Homo sapiens: one gene and its partners. The protein of the gene in region 1 purifies or fractionates together with the protein of each later gene. This does not show direct contact. Each region holds a gene or a part of one and is shown in the gene's direction. Other genes may lie near its edges. The genes, in order: SLC38A6, GDA, CYB5A, AP3S2, HM13, RBFOX3 and EDIL3.

Evidence for each region.
Region 2: the proteins of SLC38A6 (region 1) and GDA purify together in Homo sapiens (affinity purification with mass spectrometry; one large-scale study listed by BioGRID and IntAct). This does not show direct contact.
Region 3: the proteins of SLC38A6 (region 1) and CYB5A purify together in Homo sapiens (affinity purification with mass spectrometry, with the first as the bait; one large-scale study listed by BioGRID). This does not show direct contact.
Region 4: the proteins of SLC38A6 (region 1) and AP3S2 purify together in Homo sapiens (affinity purification with mass spectrometry; one large-scale study listed by BioGRID and IntAct). This does not show direct contact.
Region 5: the proteins of SLC38A6 (region 1) and HM13 purify together in Homo sapiens (affinity purification with mass spectrometry; one large-scale study listed by BioGRID and IntAct). This does not show direct contact.
Region 6: the proteins of SLC38A6 (region 1) and RBFOX3 purify together in Homo sapiens (affinity purification with mass spectrometry, with the first as the bait; one large-scale study listed by BioGRID). This does not show direct contact.
Region 7: the proteins of SLC38A6 (region 1) and EDIL3 purify together in Homo sapiens (affinity purification with mass spectrometry; one large-scale study listed by BioGRID and IntAct). This does not show direct contact.

What each region holds. Positions count from the first base shown.
Region 1 is NC_000014.9:61,046,860-61,050,372, forward strand, and holds part of SLC38A6 (solute carrier family 38 member 6), read left to right. Parts: coding exon of another isoform or gene 1-62; exon of another isoform or gene 63-95; intron 96-1,291; coding exon of another isoform or gene 1,292-1,296; exon of another isoform or gene 1,297-1,388; coding exon of another isoform or gene 1,389-1,420; exon of another isoform or gene 1,421-1,438; intron 1,439-2,456; exon of another isoform or gene 2,457-2,544; intron 2,545-3,129; coding exon of another isoform or gene 3,130-3,140; exon of another isoform or gene 3,141-3,513. UniProt on the Homo sapiens protein: Amino acid transporter with an apparent selectivity for L-glutamine and L-glutamate. May facilitate glutamine uptake in excitatory neurons. The transport mechanism remains to be elucidated.
Region 2 is NC_000009.12:72,208,324-72,212,393, forward strand, and holds part of GDA (guanine deaminase), read left to right. Parts: coding exon of another isoform or gene 1-15; intron 16-2,363; coding exon 2,364-2,451; intron 2,452-4,070. UniProt on the Homo sapiens protein: Catalyzes the hydrolytic deamination of guanine, producing xanthine and ammonia.
Region 3 is NC_000018.10:74,256,894-74,260,963, reverse strand, and holds part of CYB5A (cytochrome b5), read left to right. Parts: intron 1-19; coding exon 20-49; intron 50-4,070.
Region 4 is NC_000015.10:89,890,782-89,895,314, reverse strand, and holds the start of AP3S2 (AP-3 complex subunit sigma-2), read left to right. Parts: upstream 1-1,320; 5' UTR 1,321-1,365; coding exon 1,366-1,434; intron 1,435-4,533. UniProt on the Homo sapiens protein: Part of the AP-3 complex, an adaptor-related complex which is not clathrin-associated. The complex is associated with the Golgi region as well as more peripheral structures.
Region 5 is NC_000020.11:31,559,179-31,563,248, forward strand, and holds part of HM13 (signal peptide peptidase), read left to right. Parts: intron 1-432; coding exon 433-469; intron 470-2,455; coding exon 2,456-2,558; intron 2,559-4,070. UniProt on the Homo sapiens protein: Catalyzes intramembrane proteolysis of signal peptides that have been removed from precursors of secretory and membrane proteins, resulting in the release of the fragment from the ER membrane into the cytoplasm.
Region 6 is NC_000017.11:79,100,233-79,104,302, reverse strand, and holds part of RBFOX3 (RNA binding protein fox-1 homolog 3), read left to right. Parts: intron 1-176; coding exon 177-230; intron 231-1,048; coding exon 1,049-1,141; intron 1,142-2,658; coding exon 2,659-2,719; intron 2,720-4,070. UniProt on the Homo sapiens protein: Pre-mRNA alternative splicing regulator. Regulates alternative splicing of RBFOX2 to enhance the production of mRNA species that are targeted for nonsense-mediated decay (NMD).
Region 7 is NC_000005.10:84,101,801-84,105,870, reverse strand, and holds part of EDIL3 (EGF-like repeat and discoidin I-like domain-containing protein 3 isoform 1 precursor), read left to right. Parts: intron 1-4,070. UniProt on the Homo sapiens protein: Promotes adhesion of endothelial cells through interaction with the alpha-v/beta-3 integrin receptor. Inhibits formation of vascular-like structures. May be involved in regulation of vascular morphogenesis of remodeling in embryonic development.

The sequences.
Region 1 (3,513 bases):
AGCATGGTGCCCTGCTAGAGACGCTACAAAGAAAGTTAAAACAGATTGTCAAGCTTTTCTGATCATCATTAATAAAACAAAATTACTTAAATATATAAACTTTATTTTTGGATGTTGGGTTTGTTAGTTTTTATACAGACTTGAACTCAATAAGACTTTTCTGTGTCAATAAGATACTGTAACAGGGTCTCTTGGGATCCAAAAATATTTTGTATAGTGGAATAGCTATATATTTCTTTTATTAAAATTGCTACCTGGCACAAACACTATTATATTTAGGGATCTTCAGCAATAAGAAAAAGTCCAAAAAAACTGACCTCCTTCTTCTCCCTATGGATAAATAGAACTATCTGGAAGAAACCTCAGATGGCTTGCCAATATCCAGGCTGGCTGAGAAATTGTTAGATGAATCACCATTAGGTGCTTAGAAACTGTATTAAATTGTAGCTGTATTAGATTGAAAGGGATGTGGAGGAAGGATGGAAGCTAATACATTTATTGAGCTAACATTTAAGACAGTGTCAGGTATTTTATATATACTCCCTAACTTAATCCTTATAACAATTCTGCAAGCTCAGTGTAGGTTCATTTAGGTTGAGTAATTAGACCAGATACTTGAAGCCAGTTAATAGTGGAATTGGGATTTGAATCTAGTTTTGTCTCTCTCCAAAGCCAATGCCTTTATTACTGTGTTGTCTACTCAGAAATTGTGCTATAGAAGCCAGATTTCCTTTATTCCAAGTTTTTGTTAAGGTGATCTTTTAGAAAAATATGACTCACTTAAGCTCTAGGCATCTATCTATGTATGTATCTATGTATAATCTATCTATCTAACATTGCTGCTTGAACACAAAGGCTAAAGGTTTTCATCATGTAGATGGCATGTTTCCTAGACAGGGATTTGTCTAATATCAAGTAAAACCATTATGTTGTCTCTGATTTAATCTCTTCTCCACTAATGCAAATTCTTCAGAGTATGCAAATTTTATATAATAGAGAAATACACATCTAAGAAAATCACATGGTAGGTAGGTATATGATTGATTAATAGGTAGGTGGGTAGGCAGATAGATGGGTGGATGAATAGATGATAGATTAGATAGATAGATAGATAGATACATACATACATACATACATACATACATACATACATACATACATACATACATAAATAGAATAAATGATACAAAAGTAGTAAGTTCTTCTCCAAAGACAGAAGAGGCAGATATTGATTTGCTCTTGGATTGTGAATCATAACCAAGAAAAACCTTTGATCATATCTTTCTACCAGGATAACAGGAGCTTTGTGTCATAGGAAGAAATTGCTGGTTGAACCTGAGATCTTATAAGGGCTAGCCTCAACTTAAGGCTTCCAATTCATTTTACAGATGAACAACTAAAGCCCAGAGAGGTGAAGTGACCTGTCACAGAATTAAAGGCAGGTTTCCTGAATACTAATCCAGTGTTATTTCTGCTACTTTGTGATAATCTTTGTAAACTTAATACCCTGTTTGACAATGTGTATTAAACAGGACAGCCTCCTGACTTCAATGGCATATATAACTTGCAGAGATCACCATTAGGCCCTTTCTGAGATTTGTAGAGATTTGTCTGAATCCAGGGAAGCATGCACCACTCTATCCCTCACATATGTTATGGCTCAGTTAAGAACACAGAGTGACTGGCTCAGAAGAAGTGTTTTCATCCTGGGAAAGTAGAAAGTGGACATGTGACATCTATTTTGAATTTGTAATAAATCTAGTTCTTCAAGATTCAGGAGCTGCTTTGGATCCTTTTATCCAGAGCTCCTAAAGTTTAATTTCTAAATTTGTCAGATTAAAGGGACTTATAGGTATGTACCTAGATTAATGATACTTGCTCTGATTACAGCTGTGAAAGGAAGAGAAAAGGGTTCCTCTGGTGAGCCAGGCCAGTGCCCAAATGTTGCATAATAACCAGGCCATTTAAAAAGTCTATGAGGTTGTTAAGCAAGAAGTGTTAATAGCTCATTTTATGATTCAGAAAATGGAAATAAAATAGTTTGCCATATTTCTCCAAAGACTCACAAGTATCTCACAGATTTGGAAATAGAATCCAGATTTCCTGGCTCTTCTTAGTCTCCTACTTAGTCCAAATCCCACATTGTGTAAAGTATGTTTTTGATACTTTGGACAATTCATTTCTCTCCTGTTTCCATTATCACTAGTCTAGTTCAGATTCTCTTTACCTCTCAGTGATTGTAACAGTAGCTGTTATGCCTGTTTGGGGTCTCTTTTTCTTCCAATCCGTACTCCTGCTTTAGTTCAGATCATAATACACTGTTCTTTGTAAGTCATTATTGCATTTCTGTGGCCTACCAGGTTGAGGCCACATCTCATGCAGAACTGTATTACTAGGTCTGAAATGCATTTCCAGCCCTATCACCCACACACTGTTTCATCCACTGTAGTACTTACTAGACCACTTATTTTCTCAGATGCACATTCCCTTTGCTTTGTTTGTGCTGCTCCTTGCTTCTAGAGAATCTCTTCCCCCACATCTTTGAACATCAGCACACATTCATTGACTCATGTAATGTTCTCAGTAACCCTATAGTTTAGTATATGGCCATCCCCATTTTAAAGATGTAGGAACTGAGAGACTCAGTGTAAGTTGCTAGTTACTGGTGGGGTTTGAACATGTTCTATGTCATCACAGTTTAGAATCTCCATAGCTCTTGTTTAGAACTCTCTGGCCACTTACATGTGTATATCACACTTTCTATCATAGCTATGTGTATTCATCTCATCTCTTCTTAAAGTTCCCTGAGAACAGAGGTATGTTTCCTTTTGTTTTTGGTTTCCCTCAAAGTATCCTTTCTGAAACACTCTCAAATTAAAAGGCACCATTCTATTTTAAGTACAAACTGATATTTTCCCACAAAACACTGATATCCAGTGTTTCTGAGCACCCTCAGTCTTCTTTCCCCTTGTCTGGGTTGAGGTTAGGGAGACATTGTGAGAATGCAAGAACACTGGAGCAAAGCTTGGTCGGCATGTATAAATCCTATTGCTGACCACCACACACTGGCCTACTAAGTAAGACATTTCCCTAACACTTCTCTTTTTTTCATAAAACATGAATCCACAGATGAAACGTAACATGCACCAAGCTCTGAGATTCTAGAAAACGTTGTGGTATTGAGGAAAAGATGCTGTCTCTAGCACCAAAAAGAAGTAGGTGTATGGCACTGCCCCTTTGTGTTATGTGATCTTAGGCAAATCATTTAACACTTTTGGACCTACCTGCGTATTAATATTGTTATCATGGGGACTAAATTCAACAACACGTGTGAAAGCACTTTATAAACAAACAGCACAAATGTTCAAACCCTTAGATTATGGAAAAGTTCCAAAGAGATAATTTAGTATACATATTCATTGTCATAATTTGAGAGGTTCTGCTTATTCTGGTTTTTATTAAAGGAAAAAGGGTGTTAGGTTTCAAGAAGATATTTAATTAATGTCTCTGTGT
Region 2 (4,070 bases), on another chromosome or scaffold:
AATAACAGGCAAAACGTAAGCAAGAGCCACTGTCTGGAGGGTTTTCCTCTGCATTTAAAAGCTTCTGCTAAAGATATGCCCCAAAGTATTCAATCCACTAGTCCTTTTTCCAAGTGCTCAGACAGGTCAGGCAATATCCGTTCCATTTTCTTTCTTGAAGATCTTCTCACCTCCTCCCATTCTCTTGTTTCTGGTCAGCATTCTCTGTAGCACTACTGTAATCTTGGCATTCTCTTTGCCTCTTTCCTGCGTTTAATGCCCACTCCCTGGATCCAGGAATTACTTTGGATTACTCTTGTGTTTTACTAAAAGACAGTTTCTAAAAGCTTCCTAAGAAAGAGTTCATGGAGAGTAAAATTTTCAAGTCCTTCGGTACTTAATCATATTTCTATGCTACCTTCACACTTGATTGATAATTTACCAAGGTATAAAATTATATGTTAAAAATAACTCCTGTTGTGACAAACAACTTATATGTACTTGTGGGAAGACCTCCTTTTTAATTGCTAGAACATGAGCATTGCATTTTTTGCAAGTACTTAATTGTCTGTGTATCACTGTGGCCCTTAGAAAATTTTCTAAAGTACTTAGAAAATAGAAACCTATATAATAGAGCGTTTTCTATTTTCTAAGTACTTTAATTATTTACTTAGGATTTTTGGTTACAGAATGATATATATGAGTTGAATTTGAAGGCATTGTTCTGCTTCCAGCATTGTTAGTGAGAAATCCAATGTCGTTGTGAGTCCTGTCATTTATCTGTGACCAGTTTTTTTTTTTTTCCTGGAGTTTTTAGCATCTTTTCTGTACTTACGAACTTAATATCTCACAATTATATGCCTTACTTTGGGTTCTCTTTTTATTCCCTGTGCTGACAATTCTATGAGGATTTTAATTTTGGAGATGAATATTATTTTTCATATTTTTGTCCCTTCCATTTATTTAAAAAAATTTAGATTTCTTATTCTAAATGTTGGATTGCCTAGATTGAGCCTAATTTTCTTATGTTCTCACCTTTGATTTTCATCTTTTCCTTTTCCTGAGCAATTCTCTTGTAATTTATCCTACAACCCTCCTACTGGCTTCCACATTTCATTTATAATATTTTTACTTTTGGAGAGCTCCTGCATTCTGATTTTCATAGCATTCTGTTCTTGTTTTGTGGGTGCAATAGTGTGTTTTATTTCTTTGAGGATGTGAGTCATAGTTGTTTTTTTTAACTGAGCTTTTTTCTGACCTTATAGATTATGTTTCCTCTAAGATTTTTTCCAGATTCTTTCTCCCCCTCCTTATCTTTTTGATAATAGATTCCCTCCAATGCCTATCAAACCCTGGACATACATTCATACTGTGATGCTATAAGGTGCTGACTGGAATTTCTGGGTGGAGGTATCACTTGTTGATGGTAACTTCATTATAGGATGAGTAGTGAAGGCAGTGAATTTGGGTCCCAAACGTCACTGTGAAGACATCTTTCTTTTAGAGCCATTCATTTTCTCTAGAAAATAATCGTTTAGTCCCCTGCCAGGAGTTGTGGGAGTAGTACACGTGGTATTCTGGGGAAAATGACTGAGTGCCCTTGAGGTCAGCCAGATTTTCACTTAAACCTCTGCTTTACCTTCTCTTTTGGAGCTTGTACCCTCTAAATACTATCCAGGTTCTATAAAGAGTAAATCTCTCTTATAAGGAAGAAGTTAAGGGTGGTTGGCTGATTTCAACAAGGTTCCTGCCAGGGTTTAATCATACCTGCATAGACTTCCAGCCAGTCCCCTGCTAAAACCCACACACTTCTCTCCTTCTTTCCAAGTTGCTTCCAGGTTCTCGTCCATGTTTTTTGTCTTCCAAGAAGATATTGAAATGTTTTCTCTGCTCATGTCTCTCCTCTCATGTTCTTCTTGTGGGTTAATAACGTTTGTACTCCTTTACTGTCATGTTTGTTGTAGTTTGCGAAGGAAAGGAGATAGATATATGTGATTAACCTTCCAGGTTGAGCTAAAGTCTGGCTGAATATTTTTATTCTGTAGTAGAAGAAAAACTTATTTATGTACTCCCAGATGCAATAAAATTTGGATATCCTTAAACAATCCTAAGAAAGAAGGAATTCATTAGTATCACATTTTAATGAATTCTGAAGCACAGAACTGTGTGAATCGAGAAAAAATCAGAAGTATCAGCTTCTCCTCCAGCTAACTTTTGGAATATAAATACCTTTTGCCATTTACCTAACTGTACTCTACATCAAGATGGCATACCTTTAAATAAAAACATTTTAAAATTAAAAACTAAAATTCTGTTTTCCTCTGGATGTACCATGTGACTTTTCTGAGCACACGTGATTCGCGGTTTTTGTGATTTATTTTTAGAGGAGAACACTAAAGAATGGAACAACCACAGCTTGTTACTTTGCAACAATTCACACTGACTCATCTCTGCTCCTTGCCGACATTACAGGTGAGCAAATGAAGCATGATTTATGGGCACCTCAAGCAAAGACAGCCAGACCATCGTGGCAAACAACTTATATGTACTTTTGGGCAGACCTGCCTTTTAATTGCTAGAACATGAGCATTACATTTTTTGCAAGTAATTACGTGTCTATATGTCACTGTGGCCCTTAGGAAATTTTCTAAAGTACTTAGAAAATAGAAAACTGTATCATAGAGTGTTTTCTATTTTCTAAGTACTCTGATTATTTACTTACAATTTTTGGTTACAGAATGATATATATGAGTCTGAATTTTGTGTATTAATTTAGGGCTTTTTAGGGAAACTTTACTAATTCTAGTTGTGGTAATAGTTTCTTATATCAGCAGATACATGGTGGCTATTGGCTAGAGTCAGGGCACTGTGCTAGATGCTGGAAACGCAATGAGATAAAAAATAGTCTCTGCCCTTGAGAAGCCAGACAGAATACCTACACCATTGATCACTAACCTTAGTAACAACTATGGTGCTGTTACTAGACGTCTAGCATTGTGCAAAGCACTCTGGAAGAATTAGTTCAGCAGCAAACAGCCTTCTGAAGTGGTTACTGATGTCCTCATGTTACAGATGGTTAGACTGACGCTCAGAGAGGATAAGTAACATGCCCAGGGTTGCACAGCTAGTAAGAAGAGCTGATTCTGGATTCGGGTTGATGATTCCAAAACTTGTACCCAGCACAGTACCTGGCACATAGCAGGTGCTCAGTAAATACTGTTGGCTGATACACTGATGCCACTGTTTGCTTATGCAAAAGACCTGACCTAATGGGTGACTCTGAAAATAGATACTACAGTCTTCAGAGAAGGCAAAGAGAACCCAGAACTACGACATCTGGGAAGGCTTTATGAAAGGGTCCTTTAAACTGGGCTTTGAAGTAAAGACAAGATGAGGAGAGGACAAACTGTCTTCTAGATAGGGGAAGGACACAGGTATGGGAACAGGAGTGTCAATAGTGGATGCAGGGACCACAGTAGTTTAACTAGAGGAGTGGATTCATCGCCTGGGGGCAGTGGGAGAAGAGGGTAGGCAGATGGGAGGGTTCACATTGTAGAAGAGCTCAAATATGCACCAAAGACTCAAAAAAGGTTCTGAGTCCAGGTGTGAGTGATGTGATGAAAGTGGTATTTTAAGGAAGATTAATCTAATGGCCAGTTATCTAAATGAATTACAGGGGAAGGAGAGAGGCAGAAAGGTTTTTAAAAATCTCTTATGACAGAGATGGAGACACTGTAAAAACAATTACCATTGTCCCATATAGCCTCAGCTTTCTTGCTGAAATAGAATTCTTCCAGCACCTTTGATGAGGACTAGGTTCTAGTGCTGAGAGCTGCTAGTAAGACTGCGTAAAATTCCTCACAGATAATATTGGCATTGTTTCAGTTAAGAATAGTATGGCCAGGCGCGGTGGTTAATGCCTGTAATCCTGGCACTTTCGGAGGCCGAGGCGGGCGGATCATGAGGTCGGGAGATTGAGACCATCCTGGCTAACATGGTGAAACCCTGTCTCTACTAAAAATACAAAAAATTAACCAAGCGTAGTGGTGGGCGCCTGTAGTCCCAGCTACTCAGGAGGCTGAGGCAGGAGA
Region 3 (4,070 bases), on another chromosome or scaffold:
CCTTATCTTTTCATTGCAGGATGACAGACCAAAGTTAAACAAGCCTCCGGTAAGTGTGACCATCTCAAGTATCTCTGGATGTTCTCGTTGTATTTAATACTTGTCAAACTGAAGGCAGAGGGTTTTTATTTACCTGACTGATGCCAGCACAGGTCTTTCTAGATAAATGAATATGTAACCTACTGGCTCAGCAAGTATTTTTTATTTACGGAAACCTGTCAGTATGATTTGTTAGGATGGCGTGTGTGTAATTTTTTTAAGGCTGTCAGTAAACTACTTTTTTCATCATAATTATCAATATATACCATTTGAAGAGCTACTTTTTATGGTAGCACGTGCTTCTGATCTAAAAGATTTGACACAAGCCTTATTTTCAGAGAACTTAAAATCTGAATGGATAGTGGTTTTATTACTTAAATCTTTAAGGGTGTGTCTCATGTCTTCTTCATCTTTAAGTCTCTTGGGCATAGTAGGTGTTCAATAAATACTTGTCAGATGAATTTAATGAAATTAAATAATACCCTTTTGACTTACTTTTCCTTGGGAAAGGAAAATAACTCTGGCAATACTAGTTTTATGTTCTGATTCACTAGCCTTTCTCTCTGAACTGACCATCTCACTTATATTTGAAGATAAATGTAGGGTGAGAATGGAAGAGCACAGCCTAAGTTCCTGAAAAGTACAAGTAGGCAAAATAGTTTCTAGTGTCTAATTAAAGGACTACAGGGGAAAGTTTTGCTTAAATCAAATGACAAAAAAGAAAGTATAATTTTTCGTTTTGGTGTAAATTCTTGGTTTCATTAGAGAAAGTGCAACAGCAAGACCCCACTGAGCTTGTGTCGAGAACTGGTGAGCTGATTTTTTGAGCTGTTGCTGCCAAGACATCATCTTTAATCTACAAAAGGATCAAAGCAGTTAATCCAATAATATAAGCATAAAGGCCACATTTACCTCAACATCCCTGATAGTACAATAAAAGTCTTGTGTAATACTATTTAGTACAAAGCAATTTTTTTTATATTCTCTCCTTATTCAAGAAAGACTTAAGTTCAATGTGAATGATATGAGTACTTCCAGGAGATAAAAAGTTGACTTCAGAATTTCAATGGCCTCTGTGACAATTGCTTAGAATCCTTGCTGTGAGTTCATTTGACTTTAGCATCTTTTTTGAGGCTACTTTTTGGACAGCTGAAATTCTGTGTTGCATAAAGTTTTTCCTTTTTCTCTGAAGTCTCTTAAGGGAAGAATATATATTTTTTTTATCATGTGTTCAGCATGTTAATCATTTTGGTATAAGTCATTTAGCTATAGCAAAACAAAGGTTTAAGATTCATTAGATGAACTTAGATGACCGCAGGGCCAGCCGTCTCGCTAACCATAAAGACTACAAGCAGAAAACACTTGTAGGTGTAAGATTGTACATGTGTCTCCTGCCATAACTACTTTCAGTTTAAAGGACAAAGACTTTCTTCCTTATTTGCTTTTAGAACACGTGTATTACAGCCTATACTCTGTTGGATTAATTGCCCATTACTATTTATTGTTCTTATTTTCTATTTTAAAGTGGCAGTTACTTTGATACTGAGAATATTTTGGGAACAGAGCAAGTTTATGTGGTAAATTCTGGGACTTTAGCTTTTAGTATCAAAGAAAGCTTTCCTGACAACATTGAGGCACAGCCCTTTGTGCGTTAAGACATGGCTTACTTCATTCCAGCATTAGCAGTTGATACTTGATCAGCTTGTTAGATGTAGAAGGTCTCACTGAAGTTTGAGAATCACACTAACTTTTTAAAGTAGATTTTTGTTTGTTTGTTTTTGAGACGGAATTTTGCTCTTGTCACCCAGGCTGGAGTGCAATGGCGTGATCTCGGCTCACTGCAACATCCACCTGCTGGGTTCAAGCAATTCTCCTGCCTCAGCCTCCCGAGTAGCTGGGATTACAGGTGCCTGCCACCATGCCCAGCTAATTTTTGTATTTTTAGTAGAGATGGGGTTTCACCATTGTTGGCCAGGCTTGTCTTGAACTCCTGACCTCAGGCATTCGCCTGCTTCAGCCTCCCAAAATGCCGAGATTACAGGTGTGAGCCACGGCACCCAGCCTAAAGTAGATGTTTTTACTCTCTTCAGAGATTTTACAGATTAACTAACTTCTGAGTATTTTTTAAACAACTCTTCTTTATTGTGACTTTGCTTCAGTGAGAGCAGAACCGGAAGAATGTGGGACAAGAACTTGCTGGCCTTTTTGAGAGGCCATAAGCAGATGAAATGAAAGGAAATACATGAGCATTTTTCTGGATGTATCTTTCTTGTGCTTTTGGTTTAGTGGAAGTAAAGAGTGTCCTTAGGGATTTCTTTTGTCATGTGTCTGTATAACCATCGGCCGATCTCCAGGTTGAAGAATGTACACTGTGGTCTAAAGTTTTGAGATGTTGCCTGCTTAAAATATCTAGTTGAATAGTGAAATAAAATGCAGTAAAGATTATTAGCTTGAACCTGCCCTAAGGAAAGCATAGTGTTAAGTTACCAAATTAAGATATTTGTAGACTTAGAAATCATGCATTTTAATCTAACATAAATGTTTCTATCACATTTGCTTACATAGAGAATATTAGTCGTAGCAATACCCCTTCTTGGTTATAGTTTTGAAAGCATTCTTGTAGAAGTTATTTGGTCCTCACAGTGTCTCCATGTTAGACCTGCCAAGGGAGGTAGGTACATTGCAGCTGGGAAGTGTTAAGCACCCGGCTCACAGACGTGCTCCAGAACCATCTAGCACCCATCTCAGGCTGGTCAGTTGCAGTCCCTTAAGCTTCTCCTCTAGGTTCTGGGCTTGCCGTGTTAGACATCACTCTGTCAGTATTTTAAGGGAGATAGGCTTCCCACTAAAGTTTACGTTAGATGAACTTATAAATGAGATGACTCTGATTCACAAAAGCTTGTTGGGCTTTGCATGCTTTTCATAATTTATGGAGCTTACTGTAATTTACACTGATTCACATGACTTTTATAAGTCATTATGCATGACATACTTATTTTACTTTTTTGAGACGGGGTCTCACTCTGTTGCCCAGGCTGCAATGCAGCGGCATGGATCTGGACTCACTGCACCATCCACCTCCCGGGGTCAAGCAATCCTCCCACCTCAGCCTCCCGAGTAGCTGGACCATAGGCACACAGCACTGTGCCCAGCTAATTTTTGTATTTTTCTGTAGAGACAGGGTTTCACCATGTTGCCCAGACTGGTCTCGAACTGCTGGACTCAAGCAACCCGCCAATCTCGGCCTCCCAAAGTGCTGGGATTACAGGCCTGAGCCACCATGCCCAGACTTTGACACACTGATTTAATTGTTAACCTCTTTTTACTGAAGTTGAACCTCGAAGTCATGGAGTGAACAGGTGGCAGAGCCAATCATAAAAACCATATTCTTTCTCCTTGTTCATTGCTGACATTCTTTGATAGTCACGTCCCTAAACCCAAGTGAGGCCCTCAGAGCACTGACCACTAAAGACCAATTACTTTTCCATCAAAGTGCAAAGTGGTAATTCAAACTTCCTTTAACTGTCAAGCATCCTGGGCTACAGAGCCAAGAAGATAATCAACAATCAAAAGGTGATACGATTATTTCAAGTTCCCCTCTTTAGAGTTCATGGCTGTTGCTGATGATGCTGGTGCCAGAGTAGTGTTTTAACCTTAGCGCTCTCCCATGGTAACCACAAAGGCAGCAGGAGGGCAGGTGGGAGGTTCCAGAGTTGTCAGCACGTTGGTGAAATGCCTGCCCTCATTTTAACGACGCCGTGGATGTTTGTGTTTGCCTTCCGTTGGCTGTTTCAAACTTAACTTTCTAGTTTGACAATCATATTTTACCTTCAGTGATTCTTTTGTTTCAGAACTGATTGTGTCCTCTAATAGCTAACTAATATTTTTGTATATTTTGATTATTTCTAGTAATTTTTGTTAATTTTATTCATATATACACAATTTGGAAAATCCTCTTGCTGTAGTTATGAATACTTTTTATAGATGCTAAGATTTTAAAATTGCTGGAATAGATAATAAATTTGCAATTT
Region 4 (4,533 bases), on another chromosome or scaffold:
TACATACTTTGTGTAATCTTTTAGCTTAACAGGTGTCATGAACACTTCCGTATCATAAATCTTTCCCAGCATGATTTTTATTATCTATTTAATATTTCTCATATTCAATGTAGAACAATGCACTTAACCAATTTCTCATTTTTGTAATAATTTTCTTCCCATTTTCCCCTGTAATAACACTGCTGAGATATATATTTTTTTCTTCTTTTTTTTACTGTTCTGAAGATACTCTGGCAGAAATGTATGTTCCTCAGGCTAAATCTTTTCACACATCCACAATCATTTTATCATAAATTCTAGAGCTGGAAACGCTGAGTCTAATGTTTTATATATATATATATATATGTTATATATCTGTCACCCAGGCTGGAGTGCAGTGTGGTGTGATCTCAGCTCACTGCAACCTCCGCCTCCCGGGTTCAAGCCATTCTCCTGCCTCAGTCTCCCAAGTATCTGGGACTACAGGCGCGCGCCACCACAACCGGCTAATTTTTGTAATTTTAGTAGAGGCGGGGTTTCACCTTGTTGGCCAGGCTGGTCTCGAACTGCTGACCTCAAGTGAGCCGCCCGCCTCGGCCTCCCAAAGTGCTGGGATTACAGGCGTGAGCCACCGCGCCCGGACTGTTATATATTTTAAAGGCTTCTGATCCATATCGCCAAACAGTCCTCTGGATCGATTTGCATCTGTATCCGCTGCTCCATCTGCAGTATACGGACATGCTCCACTTCACCCACACTGGGTCATTAAAAGAACAAACAAAAATAAGAACTTGATCGATTTGGGATTTTAAATGGAAATGCACTAAAAATTCCTTAATTCCACCATTCACCGTCTACCATAGAGGAACAGCCCATCTGCACGGAGAGACAGCTACGTAATTCACTGCAGCATTATAATACTGAAAAATTAAAATGAACGAAATGTTCCATAACCGACGAACGGCCGAATGACCGGCGTCTCCACTCCGCGGAACGTTCTGCGAGCGCTAAGGGGATGGCGGGAGTGCATGATTTGGAGCGGGCGGTGAGAAAAGCAAGCTCCCGCCGCCTCTCCGTTTTGGCAACCCGGCTGACGGTCGTTTCGGCTTCTGGGGCCAGCCGTCGGTCTGGGCGAGGGACATAGATCCGGATTCGCATCCTGACTGGCCAACCAACGCTGGCCGAGGTGACCACTCTCCTCGGCATCCGCACCTGCCCTCCAAGGCGTCAGAGAGGCCGGACCCTTGGGTGCTAGGGCTCGTGAGCGCCGGGGCCAAGTTTCCGAGTGCCGCTCTCAGCAGCGCACCAACCGGAAGTGATCGTGTTGTGGCGGAAGGAGGAGCTTTCTGGGAGTAGCCGGTGCTGAGAGAACCGTGGCTGGCAAAGATGATTCAGGCGATTCTGGTTTTCAACAACCATGGGAAGCCACGGCTAGTCCGCTTCTACCAGCGTTTCGTGAGTGCGGCCCGGCTTCACCACGCCCCTTCAGGGCGCCCACTATGTCTTCCCTCCTCTTTGGCCTCTCGGCGCCCGGGGGCACCGCTCTTTGGTCACCTGGGGCTCCTGCACCGAGCATGACCCTCGCCCTACTTAAGCATTTAATCTAGGCGCAGGCTGGTGCCAGGCCTTCTGTCTCCCGCCCTACTGCCCCGCTCTCGCTGACCCTTTTCTTGATCCTGGCATTTCTGTGCCATTTTGTGACATTTTCCCGTGGGTCTCTGGGAACGAGATAGAAGCGACAGTGGGGAGTGTGCCTCGATGAGAACTTGAGTGATTGAAGTCACATTCTGTCATCTTTTTGGTTGTTGACCACAGTTTCATGAGGAAGAAATATTAAGTTTCTGAAAGTTTTTGTTATAGCCAGAACTGGAAAAGTTCTTTTTTTTTTGGAATTATTTTGCTTCAGTGTTGGCTGGGACTTTCCAGAGACTAGATACCCTTCACTCTTAGGGTTGAAGAAAATCAGTTTAAAAGTGGAAAAATGATGAGAAATTATAAATGCTGCCGCATAAGGGCTCAATAAGTGATTACGTAAATTTGAATTTTCCCAACACGTTCCTTTGCAAACACATAAACATCAGTATTTGCTTCCTGTCTTCGAAGATTATATTTCTTCATGGCAGGGTTTCAAAATGTTACATAATTGGGGGACTGGTGGAACTGAAGAGGGGAAAGAGCCAGAAAACGTGTTCAGGCTTCAGCTCCACCTTTTCTACTCTTGCGTCTGTTGACAAGTTAATAAACCCTTTTCAGACTTTTATTGTCTTTTGTCAATTAGAAATGAAAAAATAATTTTACTCCTTCATAAGATTTTTAAAGCTAGATTACATTTTATTAAGTAGATTACATCGAGGTAAAAATATGAGTATTCAGGCCGGGCGCGGTGGCTCACGCCTGTAATCCCAGCACTTTGGGAGGCCGAGGCGGGCGGATCACGAGGTCAGGAGATGGAGACCATCCTGGCTAACACGGTGAAACCCCGTCTCTACTAAAAATACAAAAAATTAGCCAAGCGCGGTGGCGGGCACCTCCAAGTCCCAGCTACTCAGGAGGCTGAGGCAGGAGAATGGCGTGAGCCCGGGAGGCGGAGCTTGCAGTGAGCCAAGATAGCGCCACTGCACTCCAGCCTGGGCGAAAGAGCGAGACTCCATCACACACACACACAAAAAAGTATATATATATATGTATGTATATGAGTATTCAGCGTAACTATTTGTATTTGCATTTGTGTGTATGCAAATTTCCCCCCTAGTTTTTTTCTAACAGGGTTACTGAGATAAAACTAACATGCCATACTGTTTACTTATTTATTTTATGTTATTTACTTATAGAGACGGGGTCTTTCTATGTTGCCCAGGCTGGTCTTGAACTCCTGGGCTCAAGCAATCCACCGGACTCAGCCTCCCAAAGTGCTGGGATTACAGGCATGAGCCACTGTGTCCGGCCCCAGTTTACTTATTTAAAGGGGACAATTCAGTGTTTTTTAGCATGTTCACAGAAGCTGTGTAACCATCACCACAATCAATTTTAGATCATTTTCATCACCCCAAAAAGAAACCTCTGCCCATTAGCAGTCACTCCCTATTTCTCCATGACTCTCCCAGCCCCAGAGAGTTTCTTTCCCTCTAAATTTGCCAGTTCCAGAATGGCAAATGGAATTTGCCTATTCCGTTGCCTATAAATGGAATCATAAATAAGTGGTTTTTTGTGTGTCTGCCATGTTTCATGTAGTATAATGTTTTCAAGATTCATCCATGTTGTAGCATGTATCTGATGTTCTTCATTTCTTTTATTGCTGAATAATATTCCATTATATGGATATGCCATATTTTGATTGTCAATTTATAAGTTGATATTTCTGCTTTTTGGCTCTTCTAATTAATGCTGCTATGAACATTCTTGTGCAAGTTTTTATGTGGACTTATGACTTCATTTCTCTTGGTTATATACCTAGGAGTAGAATTGCTGGATCATATGGTAACTGTGGTGAACATTTTGAGAAACTGCAAACTATTTGACAAATTTTCCAAGTGGCTGCACCATTTTACATTTCCATCAGCAATGTATAATGATTCCAGTTTCTTCACATCCCTGCCATTCGTTATTTATTTATTTATTTTTGGTTAAAGACATTTTAGTGGGTGTAAAGTGGTATCTCACTGTGGCTTTTTTTTTTCCCTCCGAGACTGAATCTCACTCTATCTCCCAGGCTGCAGTGGCGTGATCTCGGTTCACTGTAACCTCTGCCTCCCGGGTTCAAGTGATTCTCCTGCCTCAGTCTCCTGAGTAGCTAGGATTACAGGTGCCCACGACCATGCCTGGCTAATTTTTGTATTTTTAGTAGAGATGGGGTTTCGCTGTGTTGGCCAGGCTGGTCTCGAACTCCTGACCACAAGTAATCTGCCCGTCTTGGCCTCCCAAAGTGCAGGGATTACAGGCGTGAGCCACCGCACCCAGCTCATTGTGGTTTTGATTTCAGTTTCCAAAATGACTAATGATGTTGAGCATCTTTTCATGTGCTTATTGCCCATTCGTGTATCTTTGGATCATAGGATTTTTATAAGACCTCATGAGCTCATGGATGAAAGTACCTTGAAAACTACAGAGTACTAAAAAGATATGAGGGGTTATTAAAATCACTGAGGCATGTAAGCAATTGGTAGTTTACCTTTTTATTGAACTAGAAATTAGGTAGCCTCATCATTTCGTACCACTTCCCCACTGCTGCCACTTCCCCCAGAGTCAGATAAAAGGCTTTAGTTCAAAAGATGTCTTTGTCAGTTTTAAAAAGTGCTGATGCTTAGCATGTTTTGTATTTTGCATATATAGAGTTCGTCTCCTACAGCATCCTGTCATCTGTGAGCTTTGTTTGTTCTTTAAATGGAAATGAGGAAAATAGTGATTAATTTACTCAAATTTGTAGTGACCAATGATTAGCAAGTTTTCATTCAGTCAGTAAATACTGTGAGCCATTCCATACCCATGTGAGTCAAAGTAATTTCCCCACAATTACGTTTTCCCTTTTTTCCCCTCTCTGTTTCTTTTAAATAACCA
Region 5 (4,070 bases), on another chromosome or scaffold:
GTGGAAGCACTCTTTAACAGTCACAATCTCACAATGATTTCCGTGACTATTTGAGGTATGTCATAGTGTGGCTACCCTGTCCCCCTGGCTGAGCTCTGTGGGAGCAGCGATTTTGCCTACTCCTACATTTCCCATAGTGCCTGGTACATAGGCACTTGATAAGCATTTGGGCAGACACGGTGTGACATAGTATGATGCGGTGAGGTGCTGGGTCATTGTAGTCCCAGGCCAAAGCAAAATCCTGGGCCCCTCTCATTGTTCTAGGTAGAGAAATGGGACTTTCTGCTGTCACTTGAGAGTATTGGCCACACCCTTGGTCTCCAATGATTGCTCCAAGATGGAACACCAGGTTGGGGACCAGGACCCAGTCTCCTGTTAGTTCACTGCCCTGCTGCTTCCCTGCCACTCTCTAACCCCAGCTTTCTCCCACAGGGATCTTCATTGCCTTGCTGCTGCGCTTTGACATCAGGTGAGTGAGTGAGGGCCTGCCCCAGCATGGGCTTCTCCAGGGATTCTCCAGTGGCCTTCAGGAGCCCAGAGAAGGTACCTCAGGAGACCAGACCCTCCACCCCCACAGCAGCCAGAGCAATTCTGATTTTATCTGCATTTTGCATCTTGAAGTTCTAAGTATTTGAAGAGCCTGTGGTCAAAAAATTGTTTTAAGAATCATAGGCCAAGAGATTTAAACCCACAAGGGCCTGGTGGTACTCACAGTGCTTTCTCACTGTGTGACCTTGACAAGTGGCCTGACCTTCCTGAGCCTCTGGTTTCTCATCTTGAGTTAATAACAAGAGTTCCTACCATGAAAATCTGGAGAGAGTGCTGAGCACACACTGACCTCAGTCGCTCTTGGTTGAATCCTGGTTGCAGTCATCATCATCATCTTTTATCAGCCTAGCGTCAGGTCACCATGTCTCAGCTGCTCTAGCTGTTCCCTGCCCTCTCTTTACTCAGACATTTTTCAGTCTGTTGTAGACAGTGAGCACGAGGGGGAGAAGGTGGGCAACTTAGGTCAGCGTTTAAAACACAAGAAAGGTCTTATCCAAGTTAATGCACCTATGCAATGGGACTTGCCGTCAGCAGGGGGCGCCAGCAACAGCTCCATCATTTTATGCCCCGTCATCCCTGTGAGGGCTGGCAATGTTGCACTTAACTTTGAGGTGGTTTGTGAACTTCTCTTGATTTCCTCATGCCTGATAGTTGCAAAAGCAGTAATAACAGTGACAGTGGTAATGAGAAACTTACTACCAGCATCATTGAAATCCAGTTTCCATGTGAAACTTAGGTTTTTCCCACTCACATACACCTGGGTTATTTGTGTAGTGCCACTTCAAACCTTAGGAGCATATGGGCTCACAGTCACCTTTGGAAGAGACCTGGCCAGTCTGTAAGTAGAGGGATGTCTGTGCCAGCCGTCTCTACTCCTGGCTGTTCAGAGGTAATACAAAGTGAAACCCATAAGAAGCCCCCAGGCTATTTGCTGGAGACAGATTCAACTGCCAGCACCCTCAGAGACAGAGTCTCATTTTTTAGCCTGGGCTCACAGCATAAGCAGCTCCTCAGCTGATTTCCAGAATCAGTGCAACATTCCCAAAGGGAGTCACTTGTATCCCAGTTCTCAAGATAGGTGAGTTCTCAAGGTACTTGCAGCCGAAGGCTTAGAAGCACCCAGGACAAGGAGAGAAGGGGGTCAGAAGCACTCATTCATTCCACAAATGTTAATTGAGTCCATAGTACTGGCTGGGCACATCCCAGGTGCTGGGGACATGCAGAGGTTACGGAGCTGGCATTGGAGAGGGAAGTCACGTAATGGCAATGCCGGGCTGTATATGATTCATCTGTTCTGAAGCTGATCTTGGATGAATCACCTCCAGGAAGCCACTGGCATTTATTCATGCAGCCAGCATCTAGTTAGTACCACAAATAGGCTATTGAACTATTACGTCCACTGCACTTAAAAGTAGTAACTTATCTTTGCAGTTTCTGTATCTGTGTTTCTCAAAGCATGATCCAACGGTATGAGATTCACCTCAGATGTTTTTTTCAAAATGCAGATTCCTGGGCCCTGCTCTAGAGCTATTAGATCAGACTCCCTGGGGGTGGGACCTAGAATCCTGCATTTTTTCACAAGCTTTCCAGATGATTTTTATGCTGACTAAAGTCTTACAGCCACTGTTATAAGTTGCAGCATTTGATATTCATAACTACCAAGGAGATGAGCTCATTTTCCCATTTTGCAGATGAGTAAACTGAGGCTAAGAGAAGGAAAGCAACTTGTCCAGAGACACATAGCTGGGGGCAGTATCAGCGTGCACACCCACCTCCAGACTCCCAGCCCAGAGCTCAGTCACCCCCCCACAACCTCTAGGGTCTTCCCCAGCTCCCTCAGAAGGGGTATTACTAGTTCAGTCCCTATATCTAACCCTCCTCCTCTTTCTTCACACCTTCCCTGCAGCTTGAAGAAGAATACCCACACCTACTTCTACACCAGCTTTGCAGCCTACATCTTCGGCCTGGGCCTTACCATCTTCATCATGCACATCTTCAAGCATGCTCAGGTGGGCAGGACGGTATCAGAGTGTCAGGAATGCCTCACTGCAAATAGAGGGACTTACAGAGGGATTTATTTGTAAATGCAAGCAGTCCAGAGATAGGCACTCCCCACTGGTGTTGGAGCAGTCATGTCTGTGATTCTCTTGGCCTTCCATTTGTGGTTGCAAGATGGCTGCCACTGCTCTAGGCAGCATGGGCACGTTAGAGGCAAGAAGGAGGGAAAAGCGTAACAGCCATGCCTGCTGCCTTCATCAGGAAGGCAGGAACTTTCCCAGAACCCTTTCAGCATCTCATGGGCCAGACTGGGGTCCTAAAGCCACCCTGGCTACAGGAGAGTCCAGGAAAGAGGATTTGGCTTCTCAGCCTTGGTAGTGGGAAGCAGGCAGAGAAGAACAGGATTGGAGTGGGTGTTGGGTATTGGGGCGTCCCTCCCCCTACTCCCTAGTAGACCAGGCTCTGCCTCCTTCTCCCACCAAGATGAGGATGGAGTACTGAGCTGCCACAGAATGAAGCAACATAGCACAAAGACTGGGAGCCCTCAGTGTGGCCTGGAGAGGGGAAGATTCAGGGGAAAGTGAGCAGACAGGATTGCCCTACTTTCTACTGGAAATAATAAGAGCTCCTGTTTGTTAAGCACTTCCACATGTCAGGCTCTGCACTCATGAGGATCCTTGTGAACAGGTGGGGAAACTGGAGTTCAGGTGACACACTGCAAGTATGTGGTAAAGCCAGGATTCAAACCTGGGTCAGCATGGAAACCACACCCAGGCTCTCAAGCCCTGGCCATGGGAAACGCAGCATTGAACAGGGGCTAAGGGAGCCCTGTTGTGAATCCCAGCACCACCCAGTAACCATGGAACTCTGGGCTTGCTGCTTCTGTCCCCTTTCCCCTTCCCCAGGGCCCAAATACAGACGAGCCATCTTTGAATTAATCACAAAAGCTGGGGTTTTTTTAATCACTCTGTGCCAGGCACTGTGCTAAACTCTTTTGCTAATAACTCATTTAGTCCTAGTACAGTATTACTTTATAGAAGGTCAAAAGGCCCCTAGCCCATAATTAGAAAAACCAAGAACAACCATTGTGGAACTGCCTCTCACTTCTGCTCAAGGGCTTCAATGGCGTGTAAGGTGAGAGTAACATGCGTATGGCAAGGGTCACAGAGAGTGACTGGACCTGGTTTGGAGGACTAGTTAAGAGACCTTTTGGAGGTCTCTGCAGCTCCCGGCCCCTTATTGGAGTCCAAGCCCAGAGCCAATTCCCCCAGTGGCCATAAGGTGGCAGCCTCACCCTCTGCCTGGCTGGACTGAGAAGAGGCTCCCATTCAGAGCTCTGGCACACAGGAGTCCTCTCCTTTATCGGAAAACTGCAGCGCTGAGAGAACGCGAACACTACATCAGGCTGGGCCCTGGGTGGCGATCTGGACTCCAGACTAATGAACTCCTGAACCCTGCCCCAAGGCCTGTGTTACTCCCCAGCAGCAGCCCAGCCCTTCTCCCCAGTCATCCAAGTGGGTACC
Region 6 (4,070 bases), on another chromosome or scaffold:
TCCCAGCTGCTCCATGGCCAGGGGTGGGAGGGGGTCCCCGGTCTCCTTTCCCAAGCTGGGGGCCGAGGGCAGAGCACAGGCATGAGCGTCTCAGGAGTGGAGCGGGCAGCTGGGCCAGCAGTCTTAACCCGCACTTTCCTGTCTGCCCCACTCCCTCTTTGTCTCTGTCTCTGCAGCAATTCGGAAAAATTTTAGACGTGGAGATCATTTTTAACGAGCGGGGCTCCAAGGTGGGTGCCGCACGGAGCTGCCGCCTTACAGCGCCGGCTGTAGGTCCCGCCAGGCTAACGTGTGAAATGTGCGTTTCCTTCCTGGAGAGCTTCGCGCCCGAGGACCCCTGAGCGACACGGGTGCTTGTATTCCCCGCTCTTCCGCCCCCACCCGCCCCGCCCCCACCCCAGCTGTCTGTGTTGTTGCTGCCGCTGCCGCTTTTTCTTTCTGAGCCACCAGGACCTCTTGCCTGCACCCCAGAGCCCTGGGCCCCAGGTCCGGGCCCCACCCCCACTGAACACTTACCCCAGGGGACCACTGGCCTTGAAGCTTGAGGGAGGGGCTACAGAGAGGGCAGGCTGGGGAGGGTGTCCGGCGGAGACAAGCCCTACTCCCCTTCCAGGAAGGCACGACCCTCTACCCTGGGCTCCGAGGGTGGAGATGGGTGGGCTGCCCCTGCAGGTCCTGAAGCCCAGCCTGGGCCCCCTACCCCAAGGTGGGGTTCAGGGGGCAGGCCTGGCCTGTGGTCAGGTATGGCGTCTCTTATGTGGCTTTGGCCTGTCCCTTTGGAGATGCCGGGTGATCAGCTCAGGCTGGGCTCAGGCTGGGTCAGCAGCTGCCCCCCTGGGGCCCATACCCCTCCTGGCATCCTGCCGGTGGCCCTAGGACAGACCTCTGGGCTGCCTGCGTCTCTGCCTCAACTCACCTGACTCAACCCCTTCTCTCTCTCTCCCCACTCCCCTGCCCCCCTCCCACTCCTCTTCTTCCTCGTCTTCCTCCTCTTTCTCGCCCTGTGTCCTCCTCTCCGTGCCTGTCCTTCCCTCTCCTCTGCTCACAGGGTTTTGGGTTTGTAACTTTTGAAACTAGCTCAGATGCTGACCGAGCCCGGGAGAAGCTGAATGGGACGATCGTAGAGGGACGGAAAATTGAGGTGCTCAGATAAGTGTGCTGCGGCAGGGATGCCCCAAGATCGCCCACCTGCCCCCCAGCTCCCCCAACCAACCAGCCCTGCCACTGCCGCACCCTTCAGAGAGCCTGGCCAGGGTTCCCTGGGGTGGGAGGAAGGGTCGCACTAAGGCCAGGGTGCTCAGCTGCCGGCTGAGCCCTATCACCTGTCACCCCTTCAGGCTCACCCGAGGTCCCCTCTCCCCTGCCTCTTCCCTCCTTTTCCTAGGAGAGGCGCTGTCCCCAACCAGACACTGGAGGAGCCCCAGAAATCCTGTATTTGGGGCTTGGCAGCTTCAAGGACCATGGCCAGCCCACCCGGCCAAGGAGCCATTAATCCCCAGACCCTGCTCACCATGGAGCAGCGGCTGTCCCCAACCTGTCCCCACATGGCCCAGTCTGGGCCCTGCAGTTTGCCCCCACCTTGGCCCCACTCCACCCCTTGTTTGGGTAGAAGCAGAGGCAGCAGTGGCAATGGCCAGGGCAGAGGAAGAGACCAGGCCCCAAGGAGGAGCAGGGAGAGGGGCCCTGGGTCCCTCCCTGACACCCATCCCGCTCTGTCCCCTCCTTCCCTGCTCCCCAGGGGTCCAGAGTGCCAGTGGGCTGTGTTCCCTTGCTGCGGCCTGGGTGTCTGGAGCTGGGTACCCCAACAGGCAGGGCAGCCAAAGGGTGGCTGGAGGAGGGCTGGGGCCAGCCACCATGACAGAGCCCTCAGGCAGGCAGTGAAGGGCCTGAGAGGAGGTTTCCAGACTTCTGAAGGCACTGGCTTGGCCAGGCTGCAGCCCCACGCCCTCGGGGCTCAATGGAGGACGCAGGGGAGGCAGAACAGCCCAGACCCCTTCCTGGGACCCATCACCCCTGCTATTCTCGACTCCCTCCCACACATGCCTCGTCTTCTCCATCCCAGGCTGCCCCTGGACAGCCTCACCCAGGCATATGTGTGGAAAATAGGTGACTTCGTGCCCAGAGCCCCCCTCCCTGTCGGCCTCGTCCTCCAGGGGCACACGGGCCCCATCAGAGACCTCTGTACTCTGCAGCATTGAGGACTCTGGCCTCGGGGGAGGGGGGCATCATCCAGGAGGGGTATGTGGCCATCTTGGTACCCATGCCTAGGTGGGCCTTGGCAGCCTCAGGGAGGAGGGGGCATCCTGGAGTCCAGCCTCTTAGCTGGTTCTGGTCAGAGAGCACTCTGTGGAGAGTCCACCAGGGAGCTGCTCCAGCTGTCCTGGGGTGCCTGGGAGCCTGGGGCTGGGTTTATGGGAACAGCCACATGAAGGATACAGGCCAGCAGGCCTGGGTCTGGGGTCCTGGGCCAGGCGGGGCTTTAGCCCGTGCTGGGAGCAGTGGGGGCCAAGGCTCCCGGAGGGCAGGCAGCATGGTGGAGAGAGGAGGCTGGGGCGGGGGGTGCCGGGGGCTAACGGAGCAGGGCGGGGAGGAGTGGCCAGTGGGTCTTCCAGGAGGCTAATCCTCCCTCTTCCTCTCTCTCCTTCCCTCTTTGAACAGGTCAATAATGCCACGGCCCGAGTGATGACCAACAAGAAGACGGGGAACCCCTACACCAACGGTAAGGGGCTGGGTCCCCCCACAAGGCTGCTGGGGTCACTGGCTGGGACAGAGGCCCTGGGGGAGCTGAGGCTGCTGCAGGCTGACCTTCCTGGATCCTAGGCAGCCTCCGTCCCCAGTGTCCCAGCCCTGGGGCTGCCGCTCTGCTCCCGGTCAGAAGCGGGTGGGGCAGAAGAGGCGGGAGGAGAGCTGGGGGCCACTCACCCCTCTCATGGCCCCATACAGTCAGCCATAGCTGGAGTCTCACTTTCCCAGGCGTGCCTGGCCCCCAGAGGCCACACGTGCAGGCTTCTGATCCAGGGGGATAGCTGTGCCTTCCTGGATTAGGACTGACTTTCCCCCAGGGCCAGAGTTTGAAGGCTTCTGTGCTGAGACCTGCTGCACCGATTCCCAGTGTAAGCAGGCTCAGGGAGGGCAGTGAGGGCACGGGGGGCCTTGGATGAGCTTCTAGACCTCTCTGAGTTCCAGTCTCTTCATCTGCAAAACAGGAATAGTGACACCATCCCCCAGAGCTGTTCGATGACAAATGACACCTTTAAGCACCATGAGGAAGGGCCCGGGGGGAGGTGCTCAGATTTCGGAGGATGTGATTACAGTAACTGCCTTCCTGGGGCTTTTTGACATGGGTGGCCCTGAGGCCCCAGGCTGAGCCCTGCTGTCCACAGCAAGGGGAGACTGAGGAATCTTGTGTGTGTGCACCCCACTGCAAACGGAGGTGGCCGGTCTTCCTTGGAGATGGATCTGCCGACGCTAAGTGCTGGCTCTGGAGAAGCAGGGGGACCACTGGTGGCCACTGCGAGTCTTAACTCCATCCGGCAAGGGGCCTGCTTTGAGCAGAGCAGGCGTACGTTGGGGGCCTCCGCTCATTCCTGCCAGGGAGCAGCTTCCCACTCGGACCCCTTAGAAGCCTCAGCGCTGCCCCTAGACGGGATGGATCTCCCTGTTGCCGTGGACTTTCAGACGGTGTCACCCCCAGCCTCTCATGGCCCCCCATGTGATCGGCCATACGTGGAGTCAGGTGACAACCAGCATGGAAGCCTGGACAGGACCGCCCGATCCGCCACCTCTCCCCCGAGCTCTTCTCCTGGTGTCCGATGCTGGGGTGGGGCCGGGCCTCTGGCCTGGCCCAAGTTAGACTTGATTCTCATGGCCTCATATCCTGCTTTTCTGAGGACTTACACATCTCAAATTCTTTTTAAAAATTTGGGAGTGTTCCCACTTTGCAAGCATCCCGAGTGCGTCCTGGGTGTGACTCTTCTGTGATCTGGCACTTGGCACAGGAAGTAAAAGCGGTAGACATTTTTATAGGGTACAGGTGATCAACCAGCGGGGCTGCAAAATCTCTGGAACCA
Region 7 (4,070 bases), on another chromosome or scaffold:
GAGAAACTCACCTGGGGCAGATAGCTTTTGAGCTAGGCCTGAGAAGGATGGCTTTCAGTAGAGACTGAACATCCAGGGAACAGCCTGATTAAAGATGCTACATGACAATCTGGGGAATATTGTAGAAAATCATGACTAGAGTAAAGGTTGCTGGAGGGATGTGTTCAAATTCATTGTACGAGTTTGCTGTGCTTCGGGAGTCATACTAAAAGGTATTAGCCTTATTTCAGTAGAGTAGGGAGATATTGCAGAGTTTTGATTAGTTTAGGTGATTGATCTGTTCTATCTGTTTACTACGTATTCTAAGTCAAAGAAACATGGAAATCCCTGATGTGACATAATTAGGTGTACTATACAAGAACTAGTTTACAGGCATTTGGTATAAACGAAAATTGATTTATGGCTAAGAGGCAAGACTTCCATACTTGAAAAACTGGGCCAAAATCTCCTTCAGATACTTTCTTTGTTCAGATTTCTTAGGCATTCTTATATGTCTCATAAACATTTCTTTTATCTATAGAGCTCTAATAAGGTTGCCTGAAGTTCTTGTTTTGTATTATGAATTTATATTTACATGAAGTTGTTAAAATTGCTTCTTAAGTTACACTTGACTTTTTCAATCTATAGCAACATGTGCAAAATGAACTCCAGATAGTGGAAATGGCACATCTATACAGTTTTATCACACTTGTGAAGGATCGATTAAGGTTTAAAATATGCACAGAATAATAGAAAATAATTATATCATATTTACTAATGAATAATCATTCCAGAGACATTTTTAATCACTCTAGTTGAAATGCATTTGTAGGACTGTGGTCATGATAAAACTTTAGACATTAATATTCATAGCCAAAATTCAGAACAGTTGAGAGATGATATCACCAGTTTACATCAGGGTTTCTGTTTGGCAAATTATGTTCGTGAGCTTCAATGATTGCCATCTTTCTATAAACCATAAGTAGCATGCTTTTCCAGTGTTTACTCTGAGAAACACCTTATTAATGTTTCATATCCGATTGTTCACTTTACTTTGTCCCAGTATTGCCTACTTAACACTATGCATCATTCTTCCTTTCAAAGTATTGTGTGAAGTTTTAATTCCCTTTATCCCAGTGGCTGTAGGCAGAAATAACCTTAATCGAACAGGACAGTGATCAACACTGAGAAAAATTTAGATTTATTCTCTTAAGAACAATAGTTAAAACTTATTTTACTTTTAAGGTCAGTGGGATGATGATAATTTGCTTTTGGTCTGAAGATGATAATGAACTCAGAGAAAAACAGCTAAAGTAAACATGAAAGGTTTTATATTAGAGTGAGAACCTCAAATATAATGGGTGAAAAACTAAAAATTATTGTTATTCAATAAATTTTTAGGAATTATATTCAATGTATTCATTTTATAATTGTGTTCTTTAATAATATATTTTTAATGTTATTTTTTACAAAACTTTACCAATTTTCTTTTTTTTTTTGAAACTTTTATTTTAGGTTCAGGGGTACATGTGCAGGTTTGTTATATAGGTATACTTCATGTCATGGGGTTTTTGTTGTACAGATTATTTTGTTACTCTGGTATTAAGCCTAGTATCCATTAGTTATATTTCCTAGTCCTTTCCCTCCTCCCATCCTTCACCCTCAGGTAAGTCCCACTATCTGTTATTTCATTCTATGTGTCCGTGTGTTCCCATCATTTAGCACCCACTGTAAGTGGTGCTAAGGGAAAACATGTAGTATTTGGTTTCCTGTTCCCACATTAGTTTGCTAAGGATAATTAGTTTGCTCCAGCTTCATTCATGTTCCTGCAAAAGACATGATCTGACTCTTTTGCAGCTGCATAGTATTCCATGGTGTCTATGTATCAGATTTTCTTTACCCAGTCTACAATTGATTGGCATTTCGGTTGATTCCATGTCTTTGTTATTGTGAATGGTGCTACAGTGAACATAGGCGTGCATGTGCCTTTATCATAGAACAATTTATATTCCTTTGGGTATATACCCAGTTATGCTGTGGCTGGGCTGAATGTTAGTTCTGTTTTTAGTTCTTTGCGGAATCTTCACACTGCTTTCCACAATCGTTGAAATAATTTACACTCCCACCAACAGTGTATAACCATTCCCTTTTCTCCTCAACCTTGCCAGCATCTATTATTATTTTACTTTTTAGTAATAGCCATTCTGACTGTTGTAAGATGGTATCTAATTGTGGTTTCATTTGCATTTCTCTAATGATAACTGATTTTGAGGGTTTTTTTCCTATGATTGTTGGCTGCATGTATGTCTTCTTTTGAAAATTGTCTGTTTATGTCCTTTGCCCACTTTTTAATGAAGTTGTTTGTTTTTTTTCTTGAAAATTTAAGTTTCTTATAGATGCTGAATATTAGACCTTTATCAGATGCATAGTTTGAAAAAGTTTTCTTCCATTCGGTAGGTTGTCTGTTCACTGTGTTGATAGTTCCTTTTTCTGTGCAGAAGCTCTTTAGTTTAATTAGATCCCATTTGTCATTTTTTGCTTTTGTTGCAATTGTTTTCCGTCTCTTTGTCATGAAATATTTGCCATTTCCTCTGTCCAGAATGGTATTGCCTAGGTTGTCTTTCAGGGATTTTATAGCTTTGGATTTTACATTTAAGTCTTTAATCCATCTTGAGTTGATTTGTGTATATAGTGTAAGGAAAGGGTCCAGTTTCAATCTTCTGCCTATGGCTAACCACTATCCCAGCATCATTTATTGATTAGGGAGTTCTTTCCCCATAGCTTGTTTTTGTCAGCTTTGTGGAGGATCAGATGGTTGTAGGTGTGCAACCTTATTTCTGGTCTCTCAATTCTGTTCCATTGGAATATATGTCTGTTTTTGTATCAGTATCAAAACAGTACTTTTGGTTACTGTAGCCCTATAGTATAGTTTGAAGTCAGGTAATGTGATACTTCTAGCTTTTGGGGGGTTTTATTTTTGTTGTTGTCTTCAGGATTGTCTTGGCTATTTTAAGATAGTATTTTCTAATTCTGTGAATAATGTCATTGGGAGTTTGATAGGATTAGCATTGAAATCTATAAATTGCTTTGGGCAGTATGGCCATTGTAATGATTTTGATTCTTCGTATCCACAAGCATGGAATGGTTTTTCCATTTGTTTGTGTTATCTCTGATTTCTTGGACCAGTGTTTTCTAGTTCCCATTGTAGAGATTGTTTATTTCCCTGATAAGCTGTATTCCTAGGAGGGTTTTTTCGTTTTTTTTTTGTTTTGTTTTGTTTTGTTTTAGCAATTGTAGGTGGGATGGCATTTCTGATTTGGCACTTGGCTTGACTGTGGTTGCTATATAGGAATGCCAGTAATTTTTGTATGTTGATTTTTTACCTTGAGACTTTGCTGAAGGTGTTTATCAGCTTAAGGATCATTCGGGCCTAGACTGTGGGGTTTCCTAGATCCTTCGGGCCTAGACTGTGGGGTTTTCTAGATATGGAATCATGTCCTCTGCAAACAGGGATACTTTGGCTTCCTCTCTGCCCGTTTTGGATGGCTTTTACTTTTTTCTCTTGCCTGATTGCCCTGGCCAGGACTTCCAATACTATGTTGAATAGGAGTGATGAGAAAGGGCATCCTTGTCTCATTTCTGTTTTCAAGAGGAATGCTTCCATCTTTTGCTCATTTAGTATGATGTTGGCTGTGGGTTTATCATAGGTGATTCATAATTTTGAGGTATGTTCTTTCAGTACCAAGTTTATTGAGAGTTTTTAATATGAGAGGTGTTAAATTTTATTGGAAGGCTTTTCTGAATCTATTGAGATGATCATGTGGTTTTTGTCTTTAGTTATGTTTATGTGATTATTCACTCTTATTGATTTACATATGTTGAACCTACCTTGCATCCTGGGGATAAAGCCTGCTTGATCATGGTGGATAAGCTTTTAGTTGTGCTATTGGATTCAATTTGCTTGTATTTTGTTGAGGATTTTTGAATTGATATTCATCAAAATATTGTCCTGAAGTTTTCTGTTTTTGTTTTGTCTCTGCCTGGTTTTGGTATCAGGATGATGTTAGCCTTGTAGAATGAGTTAGGAAGGA